Regions from separate parts of the Homo sapiens genome. Here regions 1, 2, 3, 4 and 6 are each reported to be linked to region 5. Evidence: microRNA targets listed by miRTarBase, many of them from high-throughput screens and not tested one by one. Region 5 holds a microRNA gene; each other region holds the end of a gene's coding sequence.

Region 1 (4,000 bases), not on the chromosome of region 5:
CAGGGCTGGCTGGGGGGTCGGGGAGGCTAGGGCATAGGCCTGGCGAGGAGGGGAGGCTGGGGCTGGGTGGGCGCGCGGTCTCTGCCGGCCCCCAACGTCCCCGTCTCCGCAGGGCCGCCTTCAACAACAACGTGAGCGTGGCCTACGAGTGCCTGAGCGCCGGCGGGCGCAGGAAGAGGCCGGGGCTGGACGGGCGCACCTACAGCGAGCTGCTCAGGCGCATCTGCCGGGACGGCCAAGCCCCCGAGGAGGTGGTGGCGCCGCTGCTGCGCAAGGTGCAGTGCCGTGACCACGAGGCGGTGCCGCTGAGCGTCTTCCGCGCGGGCACACTCACCTGCTTCGTGCTGCTGGAGTTCGTGGCGCGCGCCGGCGCGCTCTTCCAGCTGCTGGAGGACTCGGCCGCCGCCGTGGCCGACCGCCGCGTGGGCCAGGCCGTGCTGGACACCCTGGAGGGCGCGCTGCAGGCCAGCGACGCCGCCGCGCCCGCGCGCTTCCTGGAGGCCGGCTCGCGCTTGGGGCCCGACAGCCTGGCGCTGGCGCTGGACCGCGCCGTCGGGGGGCGGCGGCCCAGCGCGCCCATGACCCGCGAGGAGTTTCTGGAGAGGGCCGCCGCGCTCTTCATCGCGAAGGTCAAGCCGGTGGGCTGAGGCCCGTGGGCCGCGCGGATCCGGGATCTGCGCTGGGGGGTCCCCGCGTGCGGGGCGCGCGGAGCCTTCCCTTCGCCCTGGTGAGGCCCTGCCATAACCAGGCGCCCAGCCCTGCGGAGGAGGCCGGGGCTCCCAGGAAGCGGACGCCCGGTCCCCACACAGCGCCGCGGCCGCCCCTCCACCCCCGCGGGAGCCCCTGCCCCACGCTAATAAAATGTGTTGCGAGGCTGACGCTGGTGTGTATGCGAGCGCCCGCCTCCCAGCCCCGGTGCCCGCAGAAGACGCTTTTCCCCAGCAGGTCACCCACGGCCCCGGAACCGCGGCGACTGGAGGCTGGATTCGAGGCCGGAAACGCCGGGACCCCTGGACCCGGCCTGGTGGGAGCAGCGGAGGGGGACGCCCCACGGGGCCCTGCGGAGCCTGAAGCCGGAGAGCAGGCGGCTCTTCTGGAACGCAGGGCCCGGGCCCTCCAGCCCCGCCCGGCCCAGGTATCCTCCCTGAGCCTCAGTCTCCCCAGATGTCAAATGAAGAGGCCAGCTGGGCAGATGGTAGTGACATTGGTGAGACAACAGCCCTAACACTTCCCAGGAACTGAAGTGCCTCATGTGATTGATTCCCAGGCCCAGGCAGCGGAGGTTACACCCTCAGCAAGGGCTCAGCTGGGATCTGCGCCCGGCCTGCTCCAGAACGCAGCCCACTCGCCACCGGTGGGGAGGGTCGTCCGGTATCCCCCAGTGCCCACCACCACCAACCAGAATCACTTCTCAGACTGCAAGAGCGAATCCAGCCGGGCGTGGTGGCTCACACCTGTAACCCCAGCACTTTGGGAGGCTAAGGCGGCGGATCACTTGAGGTCAGGAGTTCAAGATCAGCCTGACCAACATGGTGAAACCCTGTCTCTACTAAAAATACGAAAAAAAAAAAAAGCTGGGCTGTGGTGGCAGGCGCCTGTAATCCCAGCTACTCAGGAGGCTGAGGCAGGAGAATAACTTGAACCCAGGAGGCAGAAGTGGCAGTGAGCCGAGATTGAGCCACTGCACTCCAATCTGTGCGACAGAGTGAGACCCTGTCTCAAAAACAAAACAACAACAACAAAAAAAAAACAGGCCAGACGCAGTGGCCCACGCCTGTCATCCCAGCACTTTGGGAGGCAGAGGCAGGTGGATAACGAGGTCAGGAGATGGAGACCATCCTGGCTAACATGGTGAAACCTTGTCTCTACTAAAAATACAAAAAATGAGCCGGGCGTGGTGGCGGGCACCTGTAGTCCCAGCTACTCTGGAGGCTGAGGCAGGAGAATGGCGTGCACCGAGGAGGCGGAGCTTGCAGTGAGCCGAGATCGCGCCACTGCACTCCAGCCTGGGTGACAGAGCGAGACTCCGTCTCAAAAAAATAAAAAAATAAAAAGTGAATCCAGAACTCCAGCTCCAGTTGCTGGCAGGTGACTTCACTCCCTTGGCCTCAGTGTCTCCTGTTAAATGGGAGTCCCCACAGCCTGTTCTGGTGGAGGGGGTCCAATCGGACATAGAGAACACTCAAGCCTTGTTTCTCCCCTGCTGTCACCGCCACATCACAGTCATCCACACAGAAAAGACTTCTGTGACCACATGTGGGAGCGTTTTTTCCCACACACCAACCAGCAGACGCCAGCCGGGTGTCCTCTTAATTCAGCTCTGACGCCTTCTACCCAGAGATAGTGTCAGATCCCACAGGCCGAGGGCTCAGTCCCCGAGCCTCTCCCTCTTCAGACACCAGTTGCGAATCTGGGCTTCCAGGACTTCGGTCTGGCCGGGTTCAAGTTGGGGTTCCCAGCACCCCTTTGGGTTCAATTAATTTGCTGGAGCAGCTCACTGAACTCGGAAACACTTGTGTTTCCTGGTTTACTATAAAGGATGTGGCAAAGATAGCAGAAGAAGGGACCACAGGTGAGGTACGTGTAGGGTGGGGATTGGAGTGCCATGAGGATGCACAGGGCACCATCTCAGAGCTTCCAGGCATCTCCACATGTTCAGCTCTTGGAAGCTCCCCAGAACCCAGTTCTCTAGGGTTTCGTGGTTTTTTGTTTGTTTGTTCATTTTTGAGACGGAGTCTTGCTCTGCCACCCAGGCTGGAGTGCAGTGGCGCAATCTCGGCTCACTGCAACCTCCCCCTCCTGAGTTCAAGCGATTCTTCTGGCTCAGCCTCCTGAGTACCTGGGATTACAGGCGCCCACCACCACACCTGGCTAACTTTTGTATTTTTAGTAGAGACGGGGTTTCACCACGTTGGCCAGGCTGGTCTCAAGCTCCTGACCTCAGGTGATCCACCCACCTCAGCCTCCCAAAGTGCTGGGATTACAGGCGTGAGCCACCACACGCGGCCTAGGGATTTTATGGAAGCTTCATGATGTCAGCATTACTTCCCCAGGGGTATAGGGCAGGACCCTCTTTGGGGAGGGTCCCAAGACCCGTAATCGAAAAGGTAAGATTAGAGCTCTGCAGCCCAGAGGAGGGCGGGAGATTATTTCCTGAGGCCTAACGAGCTCAGCAGTGCAGCAAAAGACTGCAACTAGGGCTTCAGGAGCTATGATCCGGGAACTGAGGAAGAAAACTACTCTCTATTCTAACACCACACACGGGAACAGAATTTTATTTTATTTTAATTTTTTGAGACAGAGTCTCGCTCTATCACCCAGGCTGGAGTCCAGTGGCGTGATCTCGGCTTACTGCAAGCTCCGCCTCCTGGGTTCACACCATTCGCCATTCTCCTGCCTCAGCATCCCGAGTAGCTGGGACTACAGGTGCCCACCACCACGCCCAGCTAATTTTTTGCATTTTTAGTAGAGACGGGGTTTCACCGTGTTAGCCAGTATGGTCACGATCTCCTGACCTCATGATCCGCCTGCCTCGGCCTCCCAAAGTGGTGGGATGACAGGCGTGAGCCACCGTGCCTGGCCTTCTTTTTTTTTTTAGACGGAGTCTCGCTCTGTCACCCAAGCTCGAGTGCAGTGGCTCAATCTCGTCTCACTGCAACATCTGCCTCCCAGGTTCAAATAATTCTCCTGTCTCAGCCTCCTGAGTAGCTGGGATCACAGGCACGTGCCACCGTGCCTGGCTAATTTTTGTATTTTTAGTAGAGATGGGGTTTCACCATGTTGGTCAGGCTGGTCTTGAACTCCTGACCTTGTAATCCACACACCTTAGCCTCCCAAAGTGCTGAGATTACAGGCATGAGCCACCGTGTCTGGCCGGGAACAGAATTTTTAAATTTTTACAAGTTCCACGATGGCAGAGACCACTCCTGTCTCCCAGTTTCCCAGCACTGAGCTGGGCTTAGGATAGGTGATCAATGAACCAATGAATCAATACAGGAAT
Region 2 (5,085 bases), not on the chromosome of region 5:
ATTTGACATGAGATGAAAAATCAAAACCCAAACAGAAATACATAAGATAACTAAGGAAAAAGCAAACAACATGAAAAGATGCTCATCATTAATCATTTTAGAAACAAAAATTAAACCATAATGGGACAGGACTCCTCATCCACTAAAGGCTAAAATTAAAACGACAGCTAAAAATACCAAGTACTGGCAAGGATGTGGAATACTCTGACCCCCCCAACACACATTGCTGTTGGGAATGTAAAATTTCAGCAAATTCTGAAAACAGTTTAGCAGTTTCTTATACAAACACACTTACTATAATACAACAACCTTAATCTTAGGTATTTACCCAAGACAAATGAAAACATATAACCACACAAAGACTTATATACATATGTTCATAGCAGCTTTATTCATAACAGCAAAAAAACTGAAAACAACTCAAATGTCCATCAACTGGTAAATGAATTAACAAACTGTGGTATAACTATACAATGCAAATACTACTGAATAGAAGATAAAACAGGAACTACCTACTAATACATGTAACAATATCAGTATCTCAAAAGTATTACATTAAGTGAAAGAAGCTGGACACAAAAGACTGGTTATTTGAAATTCTAGAAAAGGCAAAACGAAAAGTGACAAAACGCAGATCAATGGGTTTCGAGGGGATAGAAGTGGGGGTGAGGGATTGACTACAAAGGGGTAAAAGGGAAATTTTTAGGTGATACAAATGTTCTATATCAGCTGGGTGTGGTGGTTCACGCCTGTAATCCCAGCACTTTGGGAGGCCGAGGCAGGTGGATCATGAGGTCAGGAGTTCGAGACCAGCCTGGCCAACATGGTGAAACCCCATCTCTACTAAAAATACAAAAGTTAGCCGGGCATGGCGGCGCGTGCCTGTAATCCCAGCTACTCAGGAGGCTGAGGCCAGAGAATTGCTTGAACCCGGGCAGACGAAGGTTGCAGTGAGCCGAGATTGCGCCATTGCATTCCAGCCTGGGTGACAGTGCGAAACTCCATCTCTGGGGAAAAAAAAGTTCTGTATCAAGATTGTGGTGGTGGTAATTACACTACTATATGTTTGACAAAATTCACTGAATCATATACTTAAATTGGTTAATTTTATTGTATATAATATCTTAAAATTTATTATATATAAAATAATACCTAAAGTTTATATATATCAAAATGGAACAATGGTAACATGATTTACTTTGCTACATTTCCAAATATTGTCCAGGGAGGATGTATTATTTTAAAATCAGAACAAAAATCCCATTTAAAAGCAATTAGCATATTAAAAATATATAAGTATACATGATCACAATGACTTATAAATAAATACAAACTCAGAGCTAAGAACAGAAGGAAATTTACCACTATTTATTTTGGGTAAAGGAGTACTAAAATTCCTCCTAAAGCTTTTGTATAATTCATAACTTTTAGGGGAGGACTTTGTTTTAAAAATGCAGTAATAGAGAATGCCTTGCAACAATTGGTGTAAGTTTATCTAGAGCTTTTGCCCAAATTAATTAATTGGGAAGGCATCACATGTGCTCACTGTTCAACGATGCTTTTGAAAGATTATTCAGTAGTTTAATTTCTTTTGTTTTTTTCCTGAAAGTTTCTGTTTCAGGTTTTTTTTTTAAGAGTTATTCTCTGCATTACTCAAAATGATGAATCAAACAGATTTTCCTTCTTAATTTAATGTCTTATTCTTTAAAATCCACTAAAGAACAAACAGTTCTTAGACCTGGAATGTATTTTCTACTCAGTAATGCCCTATTTTGTAAACAAAAGAAACAGAATGTAAGTAGCACCTTGGATTAAAATGTCCAACCTAATCAGCTGTGCAGAAGACATAAATTGGAGGTAACAATAACTGCTTTAATCTCTGTGAATGCCTCATCAATTAAATAATTCCTCAGGAACATTTTCCCCATTCATATGGGAATTACATACTGGTTTGCAAACACAGAACCAACTAATAATCTTTTTTACAGAATCTCTAAATCCTTTCTTCCAAGACCATTTTGGCCAACTGACTGGATTTAAACTGGATAATAAAAGTAAGGGAAAAAAAAGCACAAACAGAAACTCTTACAGAGCAAGAAAGACCAGATGGTCACCTCGACGTTAGAGGCAAAACCAGTATGCTCTAATATTGTGACATGACTCTAATGCCAGCATTCAATGACAGACAGATCACTTTTAGAAGAACAGCCAAGATAAAGGATTTGAGACATAACAGGTAACACACATTCCCAGGATTGGGAGCAGTACCTGAACAAGTGCTGTTAATGGATCACTGTAGCATTATCAATACATCCCAGTCATTGTATGATACTATTAACTCTTTCGGTTTCCTTGCATTTATTGGAAGGCACATTAAAATTTGCATTCTTTGGAGTGCAGCAAGATGCTTTTCCTGTTTCTTTCTGCAGCATGTCCAGCACTTTTACACCTTCTGTCAGACAAATAGGTTAAAACTCTTACATTGCAAAATCAAGAGTATAATACTCAGTGATGGATAGTGTATGTTTCTGATTAATACCCTTTTTGCCAAGTTAAAAATACCCTACTAGGGACCGGGTGCAGTGGCTCATACCTGTAATGTCAGCACTTTGGGAAGCCAAGGCGGGCAGACTGCTTGAGCACAGGAGTTTTGAGACCAGCCTGGGCAACATGGTGAAACGGTGTCTCTACAAAAAATACAGAAATTAGCTGGGTGTGGTGATGCATGCCTATAGTCCCAGCTATTTGGGAGGCTGAGGCAGAAGGATCACTTGAACCCAGGAAGTCGAGGCTGCAGTGAACCAAGATCACACCACTGCACTCCAGCCTGGGTGACAGGGCAAGACACTGTCTCCAAAAAACAAAAAACAAAACAAAACAAAACAAAAAACCAACAAAAAACTAACAATATCCTATTAAAAGTGGCTTAAACAATTGAAGGGTTTTTATTATATCAACATAAGTCCACATGTAAAGCAGCTCTAGAATGGGTTAATTCTGAAGCTTACCGGCATTATCAAAGGCTCTGGTGAGTTCTATCTTTCCACTGAGCTAACCTCAGTCTGAGTCCGTGTCTCCTTGTGATCATTAGTTGGCTGCAGCAGTTCCAACTATCAGAGTCAGAAAAGACAATGTCCAGAGAGAGCAGGATTTCCTCCTCTAAGCCTATTAGTGAGTAAAACATTTTTCAGACACCCCCTTGAAGATCACTTCTCAGCTGCCATTCACTAGGACATGTTTATGTACTCATGCCTTATCAATTACTTATAAGGGGGATAAGACCACATGTGATTCATTTAGAACAGCAGGATTCACCCTTAGGGAAAGGGTCCAACATACCTGGACACAGAGCTGCACAGAAGGGAACACCAGAATAAGCAAGCAAGAAGGGAGGGACAAAATAGTTGCTGGCCGGCAACCAACAGTATTTATCACAATCTGATAGGGCTGAAAATGTACAGCATGTGTTGTTACACTATTCCTTGGCGAAGAAGATAAGTAGCAATAAAATAAAAAGTGTAATATAATAGATTGTTAGACATTTACGAAAATATTTCAGGGACAAATAACAACTAAGATTCAGAGAGTACAGGCACTAGCCTATGTGCTTTACATGTATTAATGTACTTCATCCTCACAACTGTTACATGTACAGTTGTCCCTCAGTATCTGTGGGGGACTGGTTTCCAACCCCAACCCCTCAAATACCTAAATCCATGGATGCTCAAGTCTTTTATAATAAAATGGCGTAGTATTTGCATGTTACCTAGGCACAACCTCCCATATTCTTTAAGTCATCTCTAGATTATTTATAATACCTAATACAATGTAAATACTATATAAATAGCTGTTAAACTGTATTGTTTAGGGAATGACAAGGAAAAAAGTCTGCACATGTTCAGTATAGACACAACCATCCTTTTTTTCCCCAAATATCTTCTATCCACAGTTGTTTGAATCCACAGATGTGGAATGCATGGATATGAAGGGCCAACTGTATCTTACAAGATAAGGAAAAAGGAGAGAAGCCAAGACACTGACTAACTGACAGAGCTGAGACTGGAACTGAGGTAATCAGGCTCCAGACCGTGCTCTCAATTGCTGTATTATGAGGCACAGGGTGATATAAAAAGGGCACGTGTTTTAAAAATAGTAAAAATATCAAATGAACCAAGCCATAGGTGAAAATGTAGAAACCAATCCAAGAGGTTGGCTGAGATTTAACATTGTACATTTTATTAAATACTGGACTTTATTACAACAAATTAATTTACTTCCGATAGAAGTTTCATTTTAAAAAATGTGGTTGTGTTCAAATTCTTAATTGACACTTGTTTTGGGGTAAACATCCTATTTTTACTGGTGGTATCATCAATCATTATGAGCAGAAAGATTAATTTTGTATAACAGAACAAAGGAATTTCTCAAGTGGTACAATACTCAATATATATAAAGGGAATATACTCCCAAAGAGTGGGCATGACCACAGCAGAGTATATGATCAGAGAACATATTGCTTTTATGGTATATATATATATATATATATATCTCTACATATAACATCAAGTCATGCACATTAAGTCTTTACTACCTACTGAAGGCTTCTACCTTACACATGAAAATTGTTCATGTCCCAGGGTTTGGCATCCAGCCAAAATTTAAACAATGATGAAGAATGGCTGTCAAACTGGCTTTTCAGACCACCCCTGAAAAGCTGTCAGCTGTAATATCCATCCTGGAATCGTGGCGGAAAGTTCCTGGGAGTTGCCTTTTCCTGTGTTTTGATCAAGTCTATAATAGCTGACAGTACTGCACAGTCTCTGGATTTAGTGTCATTCCAGTCTACAGGATGAGGACTTTCAATCTTCTCTTGCAGAAGAATATCTAGTTCCTTTCTTAATTCCTAAGGTTGGAAAAATTATACATGTTCAACAAAGGCAGATATATTACCAAATAACATAATAAATGAAACTAATTTACCTGATACAAGGAGTTTCACAAGCGATGGCTCAAAAGCTAAAACATTTAGTGAGCAATCAACTAAAGTGTGGTTATGAGTGAATAACTAAAGTGCAGTTAAAATTC
Region 3 (5,348 bases), not on the chromosome of region 5:
ATAATCACATCTGTCCTGCTCATTGAACAACTAAAGAAATTAGAAAGGACTGGTGTTGACTTAAATTTATTTACTTGCAAACTGGTTGAGATTGACTTAAACCTACACAGACTGTTGGAGACCCGGCTTTTTCAGTTAATCTCAACCCATTTGCAGGCAAATAAGGTGGCTTGACTCCCAATACATCAGGCTTCTTGCTCCTGAAATTATAGTTCGTGGACCAGCAGCACACCCTCCCTTAATGCTCCCCTCTGACAGCCCTTCTCAATCAGAACCAGCGGTACTAGTGGTACAACAATATCCTTAGGGGATCCCTAAAGCACCATTTTAGGGTATTTCCCTGGACACTGAATTCCATGGTAGCTCCCAGGCTACATAGGGAGGATCAGACATTGATCTTGGATTAGATGTGACATTTTTTAAAAACAAATCATTTAATTTTGCTAATGGTCAGAGTCTTTTCTTGGCATCTAAATCCTGCCCCTACCTCACCCCCCTACCAAAGTCCCAATGTTTAATGGGAAAAACCACATAGAGGCACAAGGGAGGTGGGCCCAAGACCTTTGTTCTGTAGGCCCTCACCTTAAGAAAAAGGTGCTATGTTAATATTAATAAATCATAATATGCAAATCACCAAAGGCTGGGCCCGGTGGATCACACCTGTAATCCCAGTACTTTGGGAGGCCGAAGCAGGCAGATCACTTGAGCTCAGGAATTTGAGACCAGCCTGGCCAGCATGGTGGAAAACCCCGTCTCTACTAAAAATACAAAAATTAGCTGGGCTTGGTGGCACTTGCCTATAGTCCCTGCTACTTGGGAAGCTTAGGCAGGAGAATCGTTTGAACCTGGGCAGCAGAGATTGCAGTGAGCGGAGATCACACCACACCACTGCACTCCAGCCTAGGTAACAGAGTGAGACTCCATCTCAAAAAAAAAAAAAAAGAAAAAGGATAGACACCCTAGCCAACATGCTAAATATATTTTCTTATTTTAGAGGATCCATCCTGCGTAGATTTCTTCAACTGGTGTCACCTAGTTCCTCAGCATGGTGTCTGCAACCACAAGTTTTACGGAAAACAATGCTGCAAGTCATGCACAAGGAAGATCTGATCTTGGTGTCCTCCCCAGCACCTTAGGGCCAGGGGCTTACCTTTCAACCTCTAGAGAGACCAGCTGCCTTTGAGACCAGGAGCTGAGCACCGAGAACCATCTGTGAGCTGCCGCTGTGATGAAGGAGCCTGCTCTGAGGAACAGACAGGTTGCCAGTAGGCTTCTAGCTCAATTCCCTGAAGCACGTGGTACTCTGAAGCACTTGAAAATGGGAAGCGATGACAAATCTGACTTTAAAAAAAATCTTTGATTTGCACTGTTATATGCAAGAAGTGGTGAATCACACTGAGATACGTCGATTTGGGGAGAGACCCCCTTTTGAACTTCAAAGGGTTCAAGGGCAAAGACATCTGTTTTAAAAAGGTCCTTTATGACTTCAGGTCAAAGACTGAGACTCAGAACTTTCAAATCTGGATGGAATACCTTGCCTAACTGTTGCGTGGAGTTCACAGTTCGACTAACCCTGTGAACACCCAAGCCAGGAGTTCTATGAGAAGCCAAATGGTGCTCGCAATTGTGCTTGCTGCTGGACTGGCAAGCTTCATGTTATGTTTATTTGGTGTGCGTGTGTCTTTATTATTTTGTGTAAACTATATTCTGCTTATAGAGAGTCTCTGAGACTAAAATTGACAACTTGAAAAGTATTCCAAGGAATATTATGAAAATAGGGCAACATGGACTGTTTAAGATCTCCATGTAATTGAAATTCATGCAAGGAAACAACTCATAGAAAAGATAAATATGGATGCCCTTCACATGTTATCAACCTCGTAACTTTTGGTGCTTGCTGAATCAGTCCATGAAAAGCTACAGCCCGCTCTTTGGGAATGCTACATACCCATTTCTGGTATTTAAAAAATATCTAGGAGGAGCTAAATGACAAAACACAGCAGTGTTTTGAGGGAGAAAGGACCATCATTTATAATGCTCTGTACATACTACCAGAGCTGCTTGGAAAATTAAAGGCCACTTGTGGCTTTTTCCTACCAACTGATACGTTTAAATTTGCCCTAGGATTGAGCTAACAGCAAAAAAAAAAAAAAAAAAAAGAGAGAAAGAAAGGAGTAAACAGTGGTAATAAAAAAATCCATCTGTCTTCTTGCTATGTTAATATTAATAAATCATAATATGACAAGACCCTCACTGAATAAGAGTATTTTCAGTCATCAGAAGCCAGCTGTTGGTAGGCATTAATGAGTTTAAAATTGTTCTCAATTGAAAAAACATCACACTATTTTGCCAAAACCAAAGTAATTATAATACTGTGTCCTCCTGTAATTTTTTGAGAAGTGGTTATAAAGGGCATATTTACATAAATTCTACTTTATTCCTCAACTTCTTTGATGAATGTAACCCAATTTTACTTCTTTAAAAAGTCTCAATTCAAGCTGGATTAGCCAGCTCAGCATAATCAACTAGACAGTGGTTTGTTAAATTTAGCAGCATACTTCGTTCCCATTCTAATTAAAGTCATGAGTTCTTGAATCCCAGAGAAATAATGCTTAGGAACTTCTCTCAATCTGCTTGGCTTGGCCTAGAGAAGTGGCCATTTTATCAACAGGAAAAAAAAAAATTTTCTCTACTACAACCCCGTTGCCTTCTGAAAAACAGCAAGTTATTTCTTTATATAATTATCATTTTATTATTTTATGGAAAATTAATTTATTAATTAATAGCCTATTATGTGTTCTCACTTGCTTCTCTAAGTAATATTTTGAGATAAAATGTTGAATAAAACCATGGATTATAGAGAAAAGTCAAAATATATGTGTAATATTTAATTATTTTATAAGTTTTATAATAAAGTATTCCATTTCTTTATCTTTGACAGCTTGTTAAGTTCTTGAATAAGTTAGTGAAAAGTCCATAATTTCAAAGGTAATTTAACTGTATAAATGTCACTCAGGACTCTTAGAGAATGGTTGGGTGCAGCGGTTCACCTCGGTAATCCCAGCACTTCGGGAGGCCAAGGCAGACGGATCACCTGAGTCCAGGAGTTCGAAACCAGCCTGGCCAACATGGCAAAACCCTGTCTCTATTGAAAATACAAAAAAAGTAGCCAGCTGTGGTGGCACACAGCTGTAGTCCTAGCTACTTGGGAGGCTGAGGCTGCAGTGAGAGGAGATTGGGCCACACCACTCCCCGCTGGGTGACAGACAGAGACTCTGTCTCAACAACAACAAATCTACAGAGTAACTTCATTGAGAAGAGGAAAGATAGATAAGCTATTCAACAACTAGTGATTTTTCTTGTTTGCCTTTGAAGAAATCAAAGTATGAAATGCTAGGATGAAACAGATGACACATTTACCCTCTTGAGGACACACTATTTTGTTCCCCTGTAATTGTCATGAGAACATTTGTGGAAATCATCTAAGATAAAACTACCATAAATGTATTTTTACATTTAAAAGTCATTCTAGTAAAATATTTTTGTAAAAATAAAGAGGGGGAAGGGAAGGATGGGCAGGAAAACATGAAAAAAATAAAAAGTAATTGTTCTTGGCTTTTTGAAATTTTGAATCATTAAACCAGTGGAGAATAAGAACTGGGCAAAGTTATGTCCAATTGATCTGAAAATACTGTATTTTTCCCTGCATCTGTGATTACATGTGTGTCTACATAAGTTCATATGCGTATCTTTATAGTTAAGAGAATTTTTATATAATTTATTGCTATTTAGCAAACAAAAAATTATGATTAAGAATGGAAAATGGAATAGATGCAGATAAAATACGTGACAGAAAAAAAGATATTTTGTTCTTTTTTTGAGACAGAGTTTCACTCTTGTTGCCCAGGCTGGAGTGCAATGATAGGATCTCAACACCCTGCAACCTCCGCCTCCCAGGTTCAAGCGATTTTCCTGCCTCAGCCTCCCAAGTAGCTGGGATTACAGGTGCCCACCACCACGCCCAGAAAAAAAAATTGTCTTTATACCTTTTGGTAATAAGCAACCACATATTAGTGTTTAATGGGAATCAGGTATTGTACTGAACTATTTATATATGTTATCTCATTTAATCCTAACAATAGCCCACTTAGGAAGATACTATTGTTCTTTGTTGGCAGGTGACAACTCGGATTCAGAGACATTACGTATTTAGCCCTAGTACACAGTCACTGAGTGATGGGGTCAGGACTCAAACCCAAATCCATTGGGGTTCTCGTGACTGTGTTGCGTTACCCTGGGATAGAGAAAGAAAAAGAAGGGCATGCAGGCCTTAGAACTCTACTTTTTGCCCCCTGAGATGCATGTGAATGGAGTTTGACAATAAGTGATTTAACAATGATAAATTACGGGCAGAGCTGGGAATTTCATATGGGGAACTGGGGTTGAGAAATAATAAATCCTTACCTAGTCTTTTCAACAAAGTATACTTAAAGACTTGTTGCATATCTAAGTCTTTATCTGTAATAATTGCTTTGCTCTGGGATGATAGTATTTCCTGGGCAATCACACCAGAGTATCTGGAGCCTGCAACTCCAAGTCCATTAAGATGGAGGGAAAGCATGAGCGAGAATTCTCTTGGCATGGGTTCTATATGCTAACGGTAGAAAGACGATACCACACCAGGAAAAAAAAAAAGTTGTCTTTCTTTATAGCTTTTGGTAATAAGCAACCACATATTAGTGTTTAATGGGAATCAGATATTGTAATAAACTATTTATATATGTTATCTCATTTAATCCTCACAATAGCCCAATACACCACAATACCTCACAATACACCAGCATGTATTATGTAAGACATGGTTTATGAAAATTTATAACACAGAACCCATTATTGCTAAGTGTGATGTGGAAAAGGTCATCTAATTATGTGCTATATGGTTTTATCTTTGAAAATGTAAAAATATGCATAAGGATTCCATGCTTTGTCTGTTTTACCTTATCTTTCCCCTAAGATCTTAATTCCTTGAATACCTCTATGGTCTCCACTGGTGCTGAGGGTCAACACCTAAGACGGTTTTCGTCAGTCACCCCTGGATCTGGGTGACTGACACCTTCTTCCTCCTGAGAGGACCACAGACTCCTGAGAGGTGATTCTCAAACTGTTGTCACTCAATTGCTATCATCATGAGTTTTCCCCATAAGCACGTATCACCTCTACCAACTTTTAAATCTATTTAAGTAAAAATATGATTTGCTGTAAAAAATATTTCAGCCAGGCACGGCGGCTCATGCCTATAATCCCAGCACTTTGGGAGGCTGAGGCAGGCCGATCACCTGAGGTCAGGA
Region 4 (5,348 bases), not on the chromosome of region 5:
TAGTCAGCGTGGAGGAATTTTTAGCCAGTTTGCAAATCAGAATCTGAGCAAGAAAATCCCTGGAGTGAAACTCTGTGAAAGCATTGTATATGGAGAAGTCAGCATGGGTCAGTCATCCCTTAATAGACACATCAAAGATCACAGTGGACATGAACCAAAGGAATATCAGGAATATGGAGAGAAGCCAGATACACGTAACCAGTGTTGGAAACCCTTCAGTTCTCACCACTCCTTTCGAACACATGAGATAATTCACACTGGAGAGAAACTCTATGATTGTAAGGAATGTGGAAAAACCTTCTTTTCTCTCAAAAGAATTAGAAGACACATCATCACACACAGTGGATATACACCATATAAATGTAAGGTGTGTGGGAAAGCTTTTGATTATCCCAGTAGATTTCGAACACATGAAAGAAGTCACACTGGAGAGAAACCCTATGAATGTCAGGAATGTGGAAAAGCCTTCACTTGTATCACAAGTGTTCGAAGACACATGATAAAGCACACTGGAGATGGACCTTATAAATGTAAGGTATGTGGGAAACCCTTTCATTCTCTGAGTTCATTTCAAGTGCATGAAAGAATTCACACTGGAGAAAAACCCTTTAAATGTAAGCAATGTGGTAAAGCCTTCAGTTGTTCCCCAACCTTACGAATACATGAAAGAACCCATACTGGAGAGAAACCTTATGAATGCAAGCAGTGTGGGAAGGCCTTCAGTTATCTCCCCTCCCTTCGACTACATGAAAGAATTCACACTGGTGAGAAACCCTTCGTATGTAAACAATGTGGTAAAGCCTTTAGATCTGCCAGTACCTTTCAAATACATGAAAGGACTCACACTGGAGAAAAACCTTATGAATGTAAGGAATGTGGGGAAGCATTCAGTTGTATCCCAAGTATGCGAAGACACATGATAAAACATACTGGAGAAGGACCTTATAAATGTAAGGTATGTGGGAAACCCTTTCATTCTCTGAGTCCATTTCGAATACATGAAAGAACTCACACTGGAGAGAAACCTTATGTATGTAAACATTGTGGTAAAGCTTTCGTTTCTTCAACATCAATTCGAATACATGAAAGAACTCATACTGGAGAGAAACCCTATGAGTGTAAGCAATGTGGGAAAGCCTTCAGTTATCTCAACTCCTTTCGAACACATGAAATGATTCACACTGGTGAGAAACCCTTTGAATGTAAGCGATGTGGTAAAGCCTTTAGATCTTCTAGTTCCTTTCGACTACATGAAAGGACTCACACTGGACAGAAACCCTATCATTGCAAGGAATGTGGGAAAGCCTATTCTTGCCGTGCCAGCTTTCAGAGACACATGTTAACACATGCTGAAGATGGACCACCTTATAAATGCATGTGGGAAAGCCTTTAATGCTCTGGGTTCATGTCAGATACATTAAAATACTCACTGAAGAGAAGCCCTATGAATGTAAGTAACGTGGGAAAGCATGAAATTCTGTCAGTGCCTTTTTTAATACATGAAAGAATTCTAGAGAGAAGCCATATACATGTAAGTAACATGGGAAAGCTTTCAATCATTTTAGTTCCTTTCAAATACATGAAAGAACTCATCATGGAGAAAACCAAACAAATGCTTTTTGGAAAGGAACCCATATTTGAGAGAAACCCTGGGTAAAGGGTGTAGGAAAGGTTTTGTCATCACACAACCCTGTCACACATGAATGTGTAGTGGAGAGAACCTTGGTAAATGTAAAGAGTGTGGGAGAGCCTTTAGTCATTTTAGTTCCACTTGAAGCCATGAAAGAACACACAAAAGAGAAAGCTCTTGAATATAAGCAATGTCCACACGTTTTTAGCCAGCCCACATGCTTTCAACAACATGTAAGAATGTACCCTGGATCAAAACACTATAAATGTGAAAACTACAAGGAAGGTTTTCCATTATACTTTTAAAGTCATTTGAGGGCTCTGGCTCTGTGGCTTTGTGGGTTAAAGTACTTGTCTGGCAAACAGGAGATGCTGGATTTCAATCCCAGCAGGGCCTCACTAGTTGAGGTATTGAATTTGAACAGATGTTTTGGCTCTGGCTGGGTGTGGTGGCTCACACCTGTAATCCCAGCACTTTGGGAGGCTGAGGCAGGAGGATCACTTGAGGTCAGGAGTTTGAGACCAGTGTGCAAAACATAGCAAGACCTCATCTCAGAAAAAAAAAAAAAGTCATTTGAAAACTTCTAATACAGCAAAATCCTATAAATGTAAGTACTTCAAAAAGCCTCATGCATAGCGGGTCATGTAGTCTCTAGAAAATACATAACCTGATGGAAATGTAGAAGCTATATGTATATTTTGTTAATTAGTGGCTCATATTTAAAATAGTTCTCTGACTATGGATTTCAAATGCTTAATCTCACAAAGAAATGTTAAATTGATATAATCCTGTAAGTAATCTGAAAGCAATAGTGCATGAATTTCATAGGTAGTGTTGTTTTAGGTCAGTAAATAAAATATTTGTCTTTCCATTTTGAAATGTGTTTAATCCAACAATGAATTTAAATGTGTTTCTCATATTCAGGTATGTTAAATTGTATATGGTTGCTTAATTGTTCTGTGATTGAGGACCACTGAAAAATAAGTCTTAATAAATGTTGGTATGAACCTACTTGCTTCATTTAGCAGGTTCTTGATTCCCTTTCCACATTATATACATTCCATCATATTTATTGGAACAGCTCCTTTTTTTTCCTTTTTTCTTTTTTCTTTCTTCTTTTTTCTTTTTGAGACAGGGTCTCGCTCTGTGCTCTGTTGCCCAAGCTGGAGTACAGTGGCATGATCTCGGCTCATTGCAACCTCTGCCTTCTGGGTTCAAGTGATTCTCCCACCTTAGCCTCCTAGGAAGCTGGGACTACAGGCATGTGCCACCACACCTGGCTAATTTTTTGTATTTCTAGTAGAGATGGGGTTTCACCATGTTGGCCAGGCTGGTAGAACTCCTGACCTCAAGTGATCCACCCACCTCAGCCTCCTAAAGTCTGGGATTACACGTGTGAGCCATCACACCTAGCCCATTTTTTTTTTCTTGGCTCAAATAATTTTATTTTGCTTCCTATTAAAGAGTTGTTGTTAATTCTAAGTATGTAAAGTTTATCACAGACTGTAGTCTCGTGAATTATTATTTTAACCTGTTGTTCTTTACTCCTTGTTATTTATTCTGGCTGCTCTTTGTATAATTGATTTTGGGATAAGGAGACAGCTATGATAGAATAATAAAATCTAAAATGGGAGATGCCTTTCATGGATTGTGTCATGTCAATCTGGGTAATGGGAACTAAACTTTTCAGACTTCATTTCTTTCTTTCTTTCTGAAATAGGGTCTCACTCTGTCACTCAGGCTGGAGTGCAGTGGCACGACTGTGGCTCACTGTAACCTCAAACTCTGGAGCTCAGGTGGCCTTCCGACCTCAGCCTCCCAAATGGCTGGAACTATAGGTATGTGCCACCAAGCCCAGCTAATCTTTTTATTTTTGGTTTTTCATCTTTTTTTTTTTTTGTAGAGATGGTGTCTTGCTATGTTGCCCAGACTGGTCTCAAACTCCTGGCCTCAAGTCACCCTCTAGCCTCAGCCTCTTAAAGCACTAGGATTACAGGCATAAGCCACTGTGCCTGGCCCAGAATTTCTTTCTTTCATGGTTACCTGTAGACTGCATCAATAGCCTAAATTCCTGGAAGTTTAGAATGCAGAAGTGAAGAACGCATTAGTCAGATTTTGGAGGCATCATACGGAGAGACAGATGCATATGGGCTGTTTGGACATGGTCATCTAGCCCATTTTCCTGATTCTTTGCCCTGCCAATCAAGAGTATCCTCAGCCGGGTGTGCTGGCTCACACCTGTAATTCTAGCACTTTGGGAGGCCAAGGCGGTCGGATCACCTGAGGTGAGGAGTTCGAGACCAGCGTGGTCAACATGGTGAAACCCCATCTCTACTAAAAATACAAAAATTAGCTGGGTGTGGTGTCGCGTGCTTATAGTCCCAGCTGAGGCAGGAGAATCGCTTGAGCCAGGGAGGTGAAGGTTGCAGTGAGCCAAGATCATGCCACTGCACTCCAGCCTGGGTGACAGAGTACAGAGTAAGACCCTGTCTCAAAAAAAAAAAAAAAAAAAAAAAAAAGAGTATCCTCTAATCCACCACTAGCTACTTCACCTCCATGTTCTCAAAGTTATGGATTTCCATAGATGTTTTTAAAAGCTTCATATCAAAGATTCAGCTGCCATTTGGATATTCCTGAAGGCCCTAATATATCTGCCAAGTAATCAGTTCATATTGTCATTGTTGGGAATAGTCTGATGATCTGACTTGGTTCCTGTACGGTCCAGTTTGTACATAAACATTTTTGTCCATAGGGACAGTGAGTGTTACTGATGCAGGTTGAGAGCTACAATGGCACTATCCAAAAACAAAACGAAAAACCCTACATGGAGCTTGTTCCTCTGCTGCATTATGCAGAGATGGGTCTCACCCCGTTCTTTCATGTGAGAATAAGCACCTTATTCATTATAGAAACATTGTGGGTGTTTCCTGTTACTCATAGCTGAATGCAGTCCCTCAGTTTATTTTGAATTATGTTTGAGTACATATGATTACAAACAATATACATGTCCTCCTCAAACAAAAGTTCTCTACACATTTCTTAGAAATATTAACAGTATGCAAGCAACTTGCATACTGTCTGGTGAGTTTTGTATTTATTGAGAATATATATTAAAATATCCCATTCCAATCATGGATCCGATAAACTTTATAATTAAGCTATTTGTCCAACATTGTGAGTCAATATTACTGTGAGCTTACAACTTCAGGCCTTTTTTTCCTCATAAATTTTAGTTTTCATGCTTATTTGATTACAACTTTTATGATGATAGTAGTTTTTCATATGCATAATACCAAAAGTCAAATCATGTTGTGAGTGATTTCTTTCCAAGGACTATCAGGGACGTCCCTGTTGTCAAGCAGGGTGTAATAAATTGTGGTAATAAATACTACCACAGGCCGGGCGCGGTGGCTCACCCTGTAATCCCAGCATTTTGGGAGGCCAATGCGGGCAGATCACTTGAGGCCAGGAATTGGAGACCAGCCTGGACAACATAGCAACACCCTGTCTCTACTAAAAATACAAAAATTAGCCTGGTGTGGTGGTGCACATCTGTAATCCCAGCTACTTGGGAGTGGAGGTTGCAGTGAGCCAAGCACGCCACTGCACTCCAGCCTGGGCAACAGAGTGAGACTCTCTCAAAAAATAAAAAAATAATAAATACCACCACAAACCAGTAATGACTGTAAGGTGTATCAATAAGAGGGTATTTAAAAGA
Region 5 (4,000 bases):
CCCAAATACCTAAGGTTGTAAACTGCCAGCCAGTGAGCCAAATCCAGCCAGCAAACATGGTTTGGTTTGGCCAGAACTGTATTTTAGAATAAAATGAGTAAACATTCAAAAACCAGTTTTCAGACCAGGCATGGTGGCTCACGTCTGTAATCCCAACAATTTGGGAAGCTGAGGCAGGTGGATCACTTGAGGCCAGGAGTTTGAGACCAGCCTGGCCAACATGGCAAGACTCCGTCTCTACCAAAAAGAAAAAAAAAATGCTGGGCATGGTGGTAGGTGCCTGTCTTTACTCAAAATACAAAAATTAGCCAGGCGTGGTGGCACATGATTGTAGTTCCAGCTACTCAGGAGGCTGAGGCCCAAGAATTGCTTGAACCTGGGAGGCAGAGGTTGCAGTGAGCCAAGATAGTGTCACCGCACTCCAGCTTAGGCAACAGAGCGAGACTCAAAACAAAACAAAACAAAAACCAGTTTTCCCATAAGCATCAGAACTTTGCAAATCAGGCTGGGCGCAATGGCTTATGTCTGTAATCCCAGCACTTTGGGAGGCTGAAGAAGGAGGACTGCTTGAGTTCACAAGTTCAAGACCAGCCTGGGCAACATGGTGAAAGACTCTGTCTCTACAAAAAAAAAAAAAATGCTGGATGCGGTGGCAGGTGCCTATGGATCCAGCTACTTGGGAGGCTGAGGTGAGAGAATTGCTTGAGCCCAGGAGGTCAAGGCTAAGTGAGCTGCGATTGCGTCACTGCACTCCAGCCTATGAGACAGAGTGAGACCCTGTCTAAGAAAAAAGAGAGAGGAAAAAAAAGAACTTTGCAAATCAGAAGATGTGGCAAAACCGGACACAGATTCCTGTGTGACAACATGGTCAGGAGTGGGTAGCACCTGCCTTTTTTAGACTGGACATGCGCTCTTACTGGGGGCACTATTATACTTCCAACAGTCAAGTCACCTCACTCATTCACAACGCAGGCCAGCTCACAAGTCTGGAGTCTCTGATCAAGACTCTTGTGATTTATTCCCGGTATTACGTTAGGCCAGATTTCCTGGTCTGCCAGCAAACAGAAGGCCAATTTCTTGCTCAATGGTTTAATGCGTCAACTTTGACTATGTGTTGCCCAGGTCCCCCTCAACTGTCTTTGGAAGCAACGCTCAGAGCTCAGTGGTCCCACCCACTCACTTCACTGTTTGTACACATTTCCATGTGCTCTGGGGCCAGCCTGTGGTCCAAACTTAATTTGACAATAACTGGCCCATGCCTTTAGAATTTTTTCTTTTCCTCTAATGCTTCCCCACTCCTGCGATGACCTCTGGCCAAGGTGGGAGTGACAACCAGTCACCCCCTTACCCGGTCTTTCATAGTAGAATGAAGAACACAGTTACTCCTCGGCACAGCCTTCTGTAGTGCCTGAAATTATGATGCCCAGTTCGCTGATAAGGAAAATGAGGCCTAGAGGGGTGAAGTGACCTGCCCCAGGCCACAGGAGCACCAGGGACCCATCTTTTCAGTTCAATCCCACCAGCCCAAGGCCCCTTTCTCTGGCCTCACACCTCATACTAGGTCTTGAATATCTACAACTCCAGGCTGCCATTTTTCATGAATTTTAGGTTCGTTTATTGCACAAACATCTATCTAATATCTATCATGAGCCAAGCCTTGTGCTGTACATAGTGAAGTGGAAAGTCCCTGCCTTCTCAGAAGAGGCAGATAACACTGAAGACAATTCGGGGGTAAGTGCTGGGGCGGGGGGGGGGGGGAATGAGATTTCTGGCTTCCTGTTGCCTCCCCACCGCCATCCCTGGACTGGACGATAAACTACCTGTGAGAGGCTGTCTCCAAATATGGCTGCCAACAATTCCTCCCCCTACTAAACACGAAGCCACTCCTCCCAGTAAGGGGGCGTCTAGATTCAAGTTTGGACCACAGGTTGGCCCAAGAAACATGGACAACAACAGGGTGCAGGGGCGGGCACTGAACTCTGAGTGTCACCTGATTCAGTGGGTCAGGACATGTTGAGTGGGACGCTGGATAACCCACCATTAAATTTTCCATGCTGAACAGCTGAGCAAGAAATGGGACTTCTCTTCAAGGATAAAACAAAAAAATCAAGCCCAGTATATTTTCCTTTTCCTTGAACCTGATGAGGAAGCCTGGGATGAATCTGAGCTGGTGTTGTGACTGGCTTTGACCACCACAGAAGGCTGCAGGGGTGACACTTTGTGACATTAGAGCCCAGCCCTTAAGAAGCCTTGCAGTTTCCATTTCACCATCTTGGGAGCTAATTGCCATGGATAGAGGCGCAGTCTAGACTAGCAAAGGATGGGAGATAGCGAGGAGCGTAGGGGGACCAGCCTTCCAGCCTTCTCTATGAGGGCCTCAAAGATGTATGTGAAGCCACGATGGAATTTCCAGCCCAACCTAGCTGAGTGCAGCCTCCTGAGTGATCCCAACTGACAACCCGGGGAACAGAATAAGCACCCAGCTGAGCCCAGCCAATCCACTGAATCAGGACAACTAAGAAATCATTATTGTTTTAAGCCAGTAGGTTTTGTGGTGGCTTGCTAAAGATAAGTGATATGCTTTTCAGGAGTGGAGTCCTGTACTTTTTGTAGCTCTCCCTTCCCTTGCCTGAACCCCTGAACCCTGGCAATGGGCACTGAATCCTGGAGCTGGAAGAGGCCTCCAAAATCACTGAGTCTCACCCCTGTCATTTTATAGAAGAGAGAGCTGAGGCTCGGGAAGCCATGCAATTGACTCCAGGTCACACAGGGTAACAGGGGCAGATCCAGGAGGCAAACTCAAGCCCTTACAGGGGTTGAGCACCAAGGGTACGTCTCCACCGACTTGCAACACACCAAGACAAATGTATGTTGCAAGTCAGTAGAGAGGTACCCCTGGTGCTCACACATTCTGTCTTAAGAGGCAGTCACTCCAGCCAACTGTGGCCATGTGGGAATGTGGGCCCTGTGAAACCAGATTGTCTGACTTTTCAGAAACGCCAGAAACAGGACTTTTCTGTAAAATCTCTTGATTTTCAAATGTTGGCTAAGAATTTGAACTGGATAGATGAGCTATTAAGATTGGCCCTGGGCTTCAAGCTTGGTCCCGCTGCTGGCTTTGGGCGAGTCATATTATCTCCCAGACCTCAGTTTCCTCATCTCTAAAGTGGGCCCCGTGGCTCCTGCCCCTTTCAGGATGGCTGTGAAGGCCTGATGAGCTATTGTATTTGGAAGTACAAGCTGCAAATGGCCCTGTGACTGTTTCGTAGTCTCCATTCTCTGTGGAGGCGCCCCTTACAACATAATGAGTTAACACCCGATTTGTCTAAGTTAGAACAACATTATTCTGACCATTATCACAGAGATTGCATTTTTATGGCAGGTTTGTGAGTTGTAGAACCCTCCCATTGCATTATCTCAGGATGTTGATGGAGCTGGAAGCTGGACAGCTGCCTTAGAGACCCTCATCAGAGCCAAGCCTTTCCTCTGAGCAGGGAGGCACATTCTAGAAGTGGAGAAGAGCATGAGCTCTGGAGTCACCAGACTTGGGTTTCAATCGCTGCCTCACCACTCCCTAGGTGTCCTTGGGCCAGTCACTCCTCTCAGAGCTTTGGTTTTCTCATCTGTAAAATGGGCACAATAATACAACGACCTGTGGGGCTCTTGGGGCAACTGCACAAGGCAACACACATAATGCTGTTAGTACAATGTCTGGCACAAGAATTGACAGCTGCTGGGCGCGGTGGCTCACACCTGTAATCCCAGCACTTTGGGAGGCCGAGGCAGGTGGATCGCCTGAGGTCAGAGTTCGAGACCAGCCTGACCAACATAGTGAAACCCCATCTCTACTAAAATATACAAAAAATTAGCCGGGCATGGTGGCAGGCATCTGTAATCCCAGCTACTCAGGGAGGCTGAGGCAGGAAAATCTCTTGAACCCGGGAGGCAGAGGTTGCAGTGAGCCGAGATTGCACCACTGCAGTCCAGCCTGGGCAACAAG
Region 6 (4,000 bases), not on the chromosome of region 5:
GCTCTTCAGGCCCCACATCCCCTACCCCCCGGACCAGGGAGAGCAGTGAGCTGGAGCTGGGATCCTGCTCTGCTACACCAGGGTGAGCACTTGGGTCCAGTCCCTCACACCACCCCTCACTTCTGTCCCCTCATTCCCATTTCTGTCATTCAGAATAATTTTCTGCTTCCCTACTCCTTTTGAGCACAAAGACTAAATGTACTTCCATTAAGAATCTAGTCCCTGATTTTTTTTTCCCCCACCATGGCCAAGTCTTCAATCCAAAGCAAAAGAAAACAACTTTTAGTCAGGGCCTAAGGTCTAGGAGCTGGCTGGTTCCAGCGTCAAACCACTGTGCAGTAACCAACTTGCCCATCCTTACCCATCTTCATCTCGCTCCACTTCTTTCACTTCCCAGCCCCTGGTTAGCAGAACAGAAGAGGAGGAGAGTTTTCACAGCCCTGATTCCTCTCTCTTTTCTGTTGCAGGCTGCCTCAGGCCAGGCCCCCACGGCCCCGCTCTGCCCCTGCCTTTTCTCCTATATCCTGTAGTCTATCTGACTCCCCATCCTGGAATTGTTACAGCAGGGGTCCCTTGGGCCAACCTGAGGTTTGTTTTGTCCCTAAATCTCCCCCACTGACTGTTTCTCCCCGGGTCTGATAATGCCTTTATGTTCAAGCCCAGGATATAGCCCCAAGATGGGGTAACAGTGGGAAATATGCTAGTTCCCCTCCAGGCCGCTGATTCCATGTGACAGCCGTTAAGTCCTTGGAATGCCAGCCACGCTGTCCAAGGCATTACAGAGTATCACCTTGAGACAGAACAAAACAGGGACCTGCCACCCCTTCCCTCCCTCCGCAGCACAAGATTTTGGGACCACAAAAAAAAGTCTATATTTTTATATTGGGGGGAGGGAGTAGAAAAGCAAGCCCCTATACTGGGCCCTATTCAGTGGCAGCTTCTTGTTCCATAGGATTAAGGAAGACTCTGAGGAAATAAAAGTTGTTTGGAAAAATCCAGGTGTAGTTGCTTTGTATGTTGTGATGGGTAGAAGGGATGAAGTGAAGTGTGAAGGCCCCTCATACCCTCCATCTTGCCTCAGACTATGTCCTGGAACCCTAGAAAAGAGGGGGAAAGACCTGAGGTAAGGAAAATGCTGCAGCTTTCCTCTGGGGAATCCTTCAGGAAGTAACGCCCATCCATGTTCCCTTTATACTTGTGACCCACACTTAAGGCTGGCTCCAAAGCCCCCCCTTCCTTCTCTATAGTTTGGGTCAGCAGCCAACCCCTGGCCTCAGAACATGGAAACAGAATTCTACATCTGTCACCCCCCTCACCAAAAAAAATCTGCCCAAATAAGGCCTAAACAACCTGGGGAAAATGAGGGCTATTTAAGAGCCCAAATCCTCATACTTGGATGGTTCCCTCGGTACCTTCGTTCCTACCGGTGTCAGTGCCTCCTTACAACTATACTCCCAACTTGGGCATCTACCTACTGGAGACTGTGAGGGTTAGGCAACCCACTCCCATTCTAGCAGGGAACAGGTTACGGGGAGAGGACAGCGCGCTCTCTCTCTACTCTGTGCAGACAAAGGGGCCCAGTTCTGGACTGTATCATGCTTGGCCCGACACTTTCTGATTGTAAGTTTCGAACCCTGCTAGCCCTGGCGCGGCCTCGCCACTCAGCTCTGGGGACTGGGCGCTACAGCCCCGGGCCGTTACCTGGGGCGGAGAAAGCGCCACTTTCATTCCTGCTTCTTGGGATTGTTGACGGCCACGTAGTGATAGAGAACGACAAGCAAGAAGAGCGACACGCCCAGCATGTTGGCGAAGATGGCGAGCTGCACGTCCGTGATCATCCTGCGGAGAAGAGAGGGGCTGAGCTGCGGGCTGGCGCACTCCTCGCCCTCGCAAGAACCCGTCCTCGCCCCACGGGCCAGCCACGGCCACGGCCACGGCGGGGCTGGCCCGTGGGACGGCCCCTGCGTGCCTCTGACCTGACCAGTCCGGCTCGGCTCCGACGCCACCAGCGAACAAGCCCGAAGTCAGAGACCTGGACCGGAACTTCGTAGCGCCAGCTCAGGCCCGAACAAGCCGCTTCCGGCGGGGGGCGCGGTCGGGACGGCCTCTCTAGCCCCGCCGTCTCGTCGGCTCCGCGCGGCGCGTTACGGCCGCGGCTGGGGCGGGGCCTCGGGCGCGGCTGCGGTGGGAGGTCCAGCCGTAGGGGGTGGGGCGGGGCTGCGGACGCGCGCCTGGGCCCGGCACCGCACAGCTGGCTGCAGCTGGCGTGGCTCGGGACGCGGCTAGCGAAGCCGTGGTGGCCGCCTCCCCGGAGCCGAGGAGTGGGCTGGGGCGAGGGTGCAGCGGCGGGGCCGGCGGGATACTCCAACCCCCTTCCGGCCCCGGCCCTCAGTACTGCTGCCCACCCTTCGCTTCCCGGCCCGGCCCAACCAGGTGCTTCCTTTGGGTCCTGCCCTCAGTGCCCTCTCCCTGGCCCGGACGGCGGGGACAGGGGTAGGAGGCGTTGTAGAATGGGGACAGGGCTGGTGCTGCCGGGTGCTCCTTTCTCCGGCGCCATCCTTTGTGACCCACATGCAACCAAGTAGAACCATCCTGCCTTTTGTGATCTGACCAGGTTCTGTCTTAGCCGGGCTCCCTCCCTCCACCCTACCCCCCGGAGGTGGGCGTCGGAAATAGGGCGGACCCTCCCGGAATCAAAACCCAAACCGTGGGACTTCGGCCAAGTGGGAAATCACCCCCCGGATGTGGGGGAGGGAGAAGGGGAGGAATGGAGAAGAGGAGGAAGGGCTGGGACAAGCAAGAGGGGTCCTGGGTTCAGGACAGATTAGGTCGCCGAAGAGAACGAAGAGCGGTGGCTGCGGGTAGCCGAGGGTCTCTGGCGAGGGGAGAGGCACCCTGGAACTCTCCAAGCCTCTGCCCAAGCCAGAGCTTTCTCCCCCCTCACTCCATGCTTTCTCTCAGCTTCACCATAAAAGGGAACGGCACTGAGCCAGGCCGGGGCCGGGGGCTGGGCTGTTGCTCTGGAGCTGTCAGGGGTAATGGAAGCCAGTTGCTTTGCGGTAGAGGGGGGCCAGGGCTCAGGGGAGGCCTCTGCTTCTCGGAGCCAAAGAAAACTCTACAGGAGATGCTATGGGCTTGGGACAGGGGACCAGTTTCCCGCCTGTGTGCACTGAGCTGGGGATGCACTATCCCAAAGTAGCCTTCCCGGGCCTGGGACCATCAACAGCTTGTCACCCAAGGGCTTCAGCCCCGTGGCTTCTAAACATAATCCCTGCCTTTAGTAGTCTGTAGTTCCCGTGGCCTCCCCGCACCTCACCACCAGCCCCCACTCAATATTTCCCAGAAGCTTGATATTTAGAAAGCCGAGTCCCCTCCACACAACACTGGTGAAACCCCAGACAGGTACTCCCTTATGCATCCCTCAGTAAGCGGTCTGTTTCCAGCTCCTCTCTGGGAGAGTAAGGGTCTAGGTCTTAAGGATTACACGTCATTATGCTTCATGTCTCCTGGAAATTTGAAGCAGATCCAAGTCCAACCAAACACTTAGGTCTACTGTTGAATCAGAACTAGCCCTCCCTTTTAAAAATAAGCTCTACCTTTAGGCCAGCCCTGGAAGTTAAACTTTCTAGACTGAAAATGACAGGAAAGCAAGCCTTGAAAGTGCTTAAAACCAATTGACCCAGGTGCATAGTATCCTAGACTATCAGAGCCGAAAGGGGCCTTCAAAATCATCTTATGAAGAAAGAAACTGGCCAGGCATGGTGGCTCATACCTGTAATCCTGACATTTTGGGAAGCCAAGGCGGGAGGATCACCTGAGGTCAGGAGTTCGAGACCAGCCTGGCCAATATAGTGAAACCCCATCTCTACTAAAAATACAAAACTTAGCTGGTGGTGCATGCCTGTAATCCCAGCTACTCAGGAGGCTGAGGCAGGAGACTTGCATGAACCCAGGAGGCGGAGGTTGCAGTGAGCCAAGATTGTACCATTGCACTCCAGCC

Evidence for each region. Region 5 holds the annotated microRNA hsa-miR-4684-5p (CUCUCUACUGACUUGCAACAUA, at 2,868-2,889, opposite strand). A microRNA usually pairs through its seed, bases 2 to 8, with sites in the 3' UTR of a target mRNA and lowers its output. Matches are read on the target gene's strand: a 7mer-m8 pairs with bases 2 to 8, a 7mer-A1 pairs with bases 2 to 7 and ends in A, and an 8mer does both.
Region 1: the mRNA of TPGS1 is a reported target of hsa-miR-4684-5p. The part of its 3' UTR that is shown has no 7-base or 8-base seed match.
Region 2: miRTarBase lists DHX36 as a target of hsa-miR-4684-5p. Seed matches in the 3' UTR shown: 7mer-m8 at 4,548-4,554 and 7mer-m8 at 2,685-2,691.
Region 3: the mRNA of ADAMTS18 is a reported target of hsa-miR-4684-5p. Seed matches in the 3' UTR shown: 7mer-A1 at 2,646-2,652 and 7mer-A1 at 2,858-2,864.
Region 4: miRTarBase lists ZNF136 as a target of hsa-miR-4684-5p. Seed matches in the 3' UTR shown: 7mer-m8 at 2,930-2,936.
Region 6: miRTarBase lists AGBL5 as a target of hsa-miR-4684-5p. The part of its 3' UTR that is shown has no 7-base or 8-base seed match.

Annotation. Positions count from the first base shown.
Region 1 is chr19:518,777-522,776 of GRCh38, forward strand. It overlaps TPGS1 (tubulin polyglutamylase complex subunit 1), which reads left to right. Exons shown (of 2, transcript NM_033513.3): 2 at 113-878. The coding sequence ends at 647. Among named protein-coding and RNA genes, the nearest start is that of CDC34, 11 kb to the right of the region's middle. RefSeq lists an enhancer at 1-588.
Region 2 is chr3:154,271,454-154,276,538 of GRCh38, forward strand. DHX36 (DEAH-box helicase 36) reads right to left here. Exons shown (of 25, transcript NM_020865.3): 25 at 1,093-4,903. The coding sequence ends at 4,718. Among named protein-coding and RNA genes, the nearest start is that of DHX36, 50 kb to the right of the region's middle.
Region 3 is chr16:77,279,718-77,285,065 of GRCh38, reverse strand. ADAMTS18 (ADAM metallopeptidase with thrombospondin type 1 motif 18) reads left to right here. Exons shown (of 23, transcript NM_199355.4): 23 at 995-2,938. The coding sequence ends at 1,110. Among named protein-coding and RNA genes, the nearest start is that of SYCE1L, 83 kb to the right of the region's middle.
Region 4 is chr19:12,186,609-12,191,956 of GRCh38, forward strand. ZNF136 (zinc finger protein 136) reads left to right here. Exons shown (of 4, transcript NM_003437.5): 4 at 1-3,263. The coding sequence ends at 1,393. Among named protein-coding and RNA genes, the nearest start is that of ZNF136, 26 kb to the left of the region's middle.
Region 5 is chr1:22,718,419-22,722,418 of GRCh38, reverse strand. It overlaps MIR4684 (microRNA 4684), which reads right to left and starts at 2,902; the gene lies at 2,821-2,902. All of the region lies in intron 1 of EPHB2 (EPH receptor B2), which reads right to left.
Region 6 is chr2:27,069,625-27,073,624 of GRCh38, forward strand. AGBL5 (AGBL carboxypeptidase 5) reads left to right here. Exons shown (of 15, transcript NM_021831.6): 14 at 1-82; 15 at 468-994. The coding sequence ends at 639. OST4 (oligosaccharyltransferase complex subunit 4, non-catalytic) reads right to left here and starts at 2,030. Exons shown (of 3, transcript NM_001134693.2): 1 at 1,977-2,030; 2 at 1,702-1,839; 3 at 848-1,097. The coding sequence starts at 1,838. The coding sequence ends at 1,725. RefSeq lists enhancers at 1,509-1,748, 3,179-3,238 and a silencer at 1,799-2,498.